Regions from separate parts of the Homo sapiens genome. Here region 2 is linked to region 1. Evidence: fine-mapped expression QTL. A gene starts in region 1. The other region holds a variant in brackets. All regions are shown on one strand. Distances are between the middles of the regions. Region 1 holds the start of ATXN7L1 (ataxin 7 like 1). Region 2 overlaps ATXN7L1 (ataxin 7 like 1).

Region 1 (2,810 bases):
ATTTCAGCCAATTATGTTTATAAGACATCAGTTAGTGAATCACAATTCAAATGAATCCACCTATTTGCTTAGCAGCAAGTGGCCCCCGGAGTTGCTCCATTTGAAGCCCATAGGCCAGAGTTACATACGGCAGGCTTGCAAATGAGAACAGGATATGATTTATTTATGACGACCATATGTGTTTGATGCCCAATTGCAGCAGGTTGTGGCTTCTCTTGCATATCTTGGTCTGGGATGACCTATCTACTCAGTGTGTCCCATTTCAGGTACCGTATTTCCATGCTGGGAAAAGAGAGATGATGACTGCTGAGGGGCTGCACATACAGATGCTCCTAACCCTGCTTGCCACATAACAATCTGTGACCAAATGCAAAGTGGGCCAAATGTAACTTGCTGCAAAGGTTTGCCATGTACAATGGTTTTCAGTGGTGAGTGGAGAAGTAGCTGCTGGAATGACTGACCATGTGGGGTTCATTAAGCTGTTGTGCATTCACCCACGAGAAAGGCTGGGATGCTTGTGAAGGGAACTCCACTCTTCATTTCAGAAATTTTAACGCCCCACCATTTGGCAATGATGCTCCCAAGGAGAATGGCAGATATGCATCAGAAGGTTCAAACGTGGAGTCCAACTGAAGTGCAGTAAACTTCTGCCTTCAACAGTCTCACCCCCCTTTACCCCCCCCCCAGTTGTATTTATACTTTGAAAGAAGTTAACATGAAGCAGTAGTCACCTGGGCGTGCTCAATTTTTGACAAGCCTTAGTCACTCTGTACCCAGCAGAACAATTCACATTATATTCGAAATCCTGTGAAGATTCTGCCACACATGCTAACACTAAAATGCCAGTAGCTCCACTTACCTTCTTTATTAAGCCTCATAACCTCCCTGCTTTTTCCACCCTCTTTTCCAGCCTCTTCTAAATCTACATCTGCAGATGAAAAAGAAAAGGAAAACAGAAAATAAGGAAAAAAGGGGGGAAAAAAGCCAAAGTCAAGGGGGGAGGGAGAGTGTTTATTTGCAAACAGATCGATATAAATACTGTATATGAAATTCTTTCAAAAATTGACAATGCAACATTTTCTCCCAAGTCTGGGTTTCCATCTACCTGGCCCAGATAGGTACCCAAAAAACTATGCAAGCAGCAACAAAGTAGCCTTTTAAACGGACAACACCGTGGGGCTGCGAGCCCACCCCGCGGGCTGCCACGGGGAGCCGGGCACAGACAGACAGACAGCCCTGGCAGCCGGGCCTCTCCCTGTGCATTGATGATCTGTCTCTGTGTGTATTTATTTAGAGAGAGAGGGAGAAGCATGGAGGACACCGGGGGCCACTCTCTCTCTCACACACACACTTTTTCCCAGTGGCTCTAGGTGAATGGAAAGGTTACAGGATAATAAAAGGAGGAGGAGGTGGTGGGGTTCTTACTGTCGGAGCAGTGTAATTTGGCGGCGTCGATCCAGGAGGACCAGGGTTTGCCCAGAAACGCCTCCGGACTGGGCACTTTGCGATCCAGTGTCGCCATTGCTCTTCCTTCTTGTTGCTTTTTCCCTGTTCCTTCGGCAGCAGCAGCCGAGAGACACGGGATTCGAGAACGCTCCGACGTCATCTTCGGAACGTTCCGACATTGAGTGTTCTGAAAGGGGGAGGGAGGGAGGAAGGGCGGGATGGGAGGAGGGCGGCGGAGGAGGAGGGGAGAGGGAGCGGAGGAGGGGCGGGCGCTCGGGCTCCCGGAGCCGGCTCGGTGGGGCTCGCGCGCCCGCGGCCGCCAGGGGCAGCAGAGAGGCACCTGCAGTCCGCGCCCGCCCGCCCGCCGGGGCCGCCCGCCTGCCGGGGAGGGGCAGCGCGGACGGGCGAGCGCCGCGTGCGGGAGAGCGAAGGCTGCAGCGCGCCCGGCAGCCGGGATGCAGCGGCGCCGCCCAAGCCTGGGGCGCAGGGGTCGGGGCACACGGGGATAGGCCCGACGCGGGGCCGAAGGAAGGGTGGTCTTTCCCGCAGAGTTGCCGCTGGAGGACCGAAAGTTTTGCAGGCAGCCCTTGCTTCCAGCTTGTCGCTCTCTCCCCGCGTCCCTGTCGCCCAACGCGAGGCGCCCCCGCTGGGGTCCCGACGGCTTGGTGGGGAGGAGCCGTGAGGGGTTGCGCCCCCCACCCCCACCCGAGCCAGGGAAGGGACCCTGGTGACCTCGCCTCCCAGCCCTCACCCCCGTCACCCCTTTCTTCTCTTTCCTGGAGGACTTTGGACCATGGAGATTCTGCAGTTGTTGCTCTAGGAGCTGAAACCAGTGGGTAGATGTCGTTCTGAAACGCAGGTGAGTTTGGAGCGCTACGAGCTACCTTCCCATCTCAGGCTGCGGGGCGTGCAAAACTCAAAAGTTAGGGCCCCCGGACCCCCGGGTTCCCCGCGCGGTGCGTATCTCCGGCTCTCAGAGAACCACTGCATGGACTTTGCTCCAGGGTCAGCAGAGCGGGAGGGCGAATTTACGGCTCTTGGAAGACGACGCTAACGGGCCTAGCCCCTGAGCCGTTTCCAGCGCTCCCTGCCGTGAGACGAGGGTGGCCCGGGTTTGCGCAGGCAACCTTTGGCCAGGAATCTGATTCCTGGGAGAATTCACTTCAGGCTTAACTGCTCTAGCCAGCTAGAAAGGGAGCGCTAGATTTCCTCTGGATTTTGGACGTTGGGTGCTTTAGTTGAGATTTTCACCCTTTAAAGAAGGCTTTAAAAAGTCTTCTGTTACTTCTTTTTAACAAATCCTTTTGTTTACTAGAATTATCTAAACTATATGGACACCGCCCTCACCCCACAAGCGACATATT
Region 2 (2,810 bases), 200 kb before region 1:
GGAGTGCTTGTGAGCTTTTCTGGAGTGCCCATTCCCTTCTCAGACTGCAGTACCTCTTTAAAAGATGGCAGGGCTGAGGAGCCGAGGAGGCGTTCCTTAAGCAAAGGTTATGCTAGGTCTTCTTTACCCCTCTTCACCTCCTACCCACTGCTGGGCAACATGACCTATCTTGGGCACTAAGTTCTTTTGACAAATATGAGTGTGGGCCTGTGGTCTACACTGTTCACACCAACACCAGCTCAGTTCCCAAATCCCTAGGCTCTGGGATGGTTTCTTCGTCATCTGGTCACCCCATGCACATTCATTCAGTTAGGAGGGAAAGCAGGCTTTCTTGAGTACCTACTATATATCAGGCACTGTGTAAGCTGCTTTTCACTCACCAGCTCATCTACCCAATAACCCTACCATGTGGTATGATACCGTTAGTTGCCTTGTTATAGATGGGGAAATTACTATTATTTTTTTTTCTTCTTAGATATCAGATGGGGGAAATTAAAGCTTAGCAAGATTGTGAAACAAGACCAAGGTCACGCAGACCTCAGCAGCTGGCAGGAAAGCCCAGGCTTGCCTGGCCCCAGAGCCAATGCCCTTTCTACCATGCCACCCTGCCTGGGATGTTCCTTTCCCTCCACGCTTTAGAAATGCAACTGGGATGATTCTTACAAGGGCATTTCCCATTCCAGAGCTGCTGTGAAGTCATGTAACTTAGGATCCTTTTTAACTTTTCCCCTGTGGTGGCATTCCCCCTTCCTCCTCCTCTTCTATTTGTCATTTATACTAAGGTGCAAATTTCTGGCATCACCACTATTGGGCAGGATCTGGGGAGTCCCAGGGGCTTTCCAGGGCCCTGAAATACTTCCATCAGCCCCCAGGGATGCCCTCACAAGACACCTAGACTAGCTAAAAGGAAAAACTACAGAAATAGAATCTGTGGGGAGACAAGCACATGTACACCTTGCCAGCGGTACTTTCAAGGGATTACATTTTTCTGGAGAGCAACCTGGTGATAATAACAGGAACTAAAAAGCATCCATAGCCTTTCATCTGGTAATCTGGTAATGTAAGTTTGGAAAATAGGCCTCCAGGAAATATCCCAAAGGGAAAAAAAAAGTTCAAAGATATTCTCAGCACTGTTTACTACAGT[TA/T]AAAAAAAAAATACTACAAGCAACCTGAATAATCCATAATAAAGCAATTGGTAGGAGACAGGTAAGAGAGTTATCTCAACCTAAGAAAATGTATGCAAAATAGTACACTCACATTCACAAGGAAATTCAAAATGGCACAAATAGTATGTAGAGACTAATCACTACTTAAAGAAAAATATTTGAGGCTGGGTGCGGTGGTTCACTCCTGTAATCCCAGCACTTTGGGAGGCCGAGGTGGGTGGATCACTTGAGGTCAGGAGTTTGAGACCAGCCTGGCCAACATGGTGAAAGCCCGTCTCTACTAAAAACACAGAAAAATTAGCCAGGCGTGGTGGTGCATGCCTGTAATCCCCGCTACTCGGGAGGTTGAGGTGGGAGGATTGCTTGAACCTGGGAGGCAGAGGTTGCAGTGACCTGAGATCACGCCACTGCACTCTAGCCTGGTGACAGAATGAGACCCCATCTCAAAAAAAAGAAAAAAAAAAGCACTTGATAAATACATGATGATGAGGAAAAAAGAGAATGATATAAGATGCATTGCTTAATAGGCTCTGTCTTTTTTAAAACTGTTTAAGTTCATCCAAGAAGATAAAAACAGACAACAACAAAACACTAACATATCCTTAAGCAGAAAAGGTGGAAGAGAGAAAGTAGGTGCCAATACAAATGCAGGAAGGAGACAAAAATATGGGTTAAAATGAAAGCTATTTCATTCATTCATTCACTCTTTTTTTTTTTTTTTTCTTAGCATTTCCTTGGCACCTACCATGTGCCAGACACTGGGCTATGAGCCCTGGGTTATTACAGTGATGATACAATAGGTTGCTGTCACTGCTAGACCTTTGTCATCAGAGGGCTTCCTGTGCTCAGGGGACAGCACTCTCCAGATCCTGGCTCGCTGCCACAGTTGTCACTCTGAGTGGAGGAGAACGGACGCGGCCCTCAGAAGGCAAGCTGCTGCCCGAAGGACCTGAGTCTGCCGGACTCCACCTGGAGCCAGAACCACGATCCTCTTCATAACATGAGGCCTTTTATGGCTCTATCTGCTCCCCACTGTCTGGGCCCAGTGGTAGCAGAGGGGTTGACAAGGACTCCACATGCATGGCACTGAACTTCTCCATCAGAGTAGCCCCCTCCAAAACCACAAACACACACCGCACAAGTCACATGTGTTTAAACACAGGAGTCACCACAGCTTTGGTGAAAACTGGGGGCTACCAGCTTGCAGATAAGCTGTTGAATTCTACCTTAGGATGACACAGCTGATATCGCCCCCAGAGCACTGATGGGACAGGTATGGCAGACAGCTGGACCTGGGCACGGGGGAGCCACAGACCCCAGGATCTTGGGGAGAAGATCCATGAGCTGGGATTCCCCATATTTAAAATACCTGATAGAATGGCTGGGCATAGTGGCTCACACCTGTAATCCCGGCACTTTGGGAGGCCGAGGTGGGTGGACCACTTGAGGTCAGGAGTTCAAGACCAGCCTGGCCCACATGGGAAAACTCCGTCTCTACTAAAAATACAAAAATTAGCCAGGTGTGGTGGCATGTGTCTGTAATCCCAGCTACTCGGGAGGCCGAGGCAGGAGAATCGCTTGAACCTTGGAGATGGAGGTAGCAATGAACCGAGATTGCGACACTGCACTCCAGCCTGAGAGACA

Evidence for each region. PIP is the estimated chance that this variant, and not a neighbour inherited with it, causes the effect.
Region 2: its variant is fine-mapped to the expression of ATXN7L1 in whole blood (INTERVAL, PIP above 0.99).

What each region holds. Positions count from the first base shown.
Region 1 is chr7:105,874,953-105,877,762 of GRCh38, forward strand. It overlaps ATXN7L1 (ataxin 7 like 1), which reads right to left and starts at 1,647. Exons shown (of 12, transcript NM_020725.2): 1 at 1,426-1,647; 2 at 860-928. The coding sequence starts at 1,606. RefSeq lists a silencer at 1,690-1,899.
Region 2 is chr7:105,674,013-105,676,822 of GRCh38, forward strand. All of the region lies in intron 3 of ATXN7L1 (ataxin 7 like 1), which reads right to left. Among named protein-coding and RNA genes, the nearest start is that of EFCAB10, 94 kb to the left of the region's middle. RefSeq lists enhancers at 1,897-2,397, 2,272-2,321. The variant TA/T (reference allele first, on the strand shown) is at 1,145.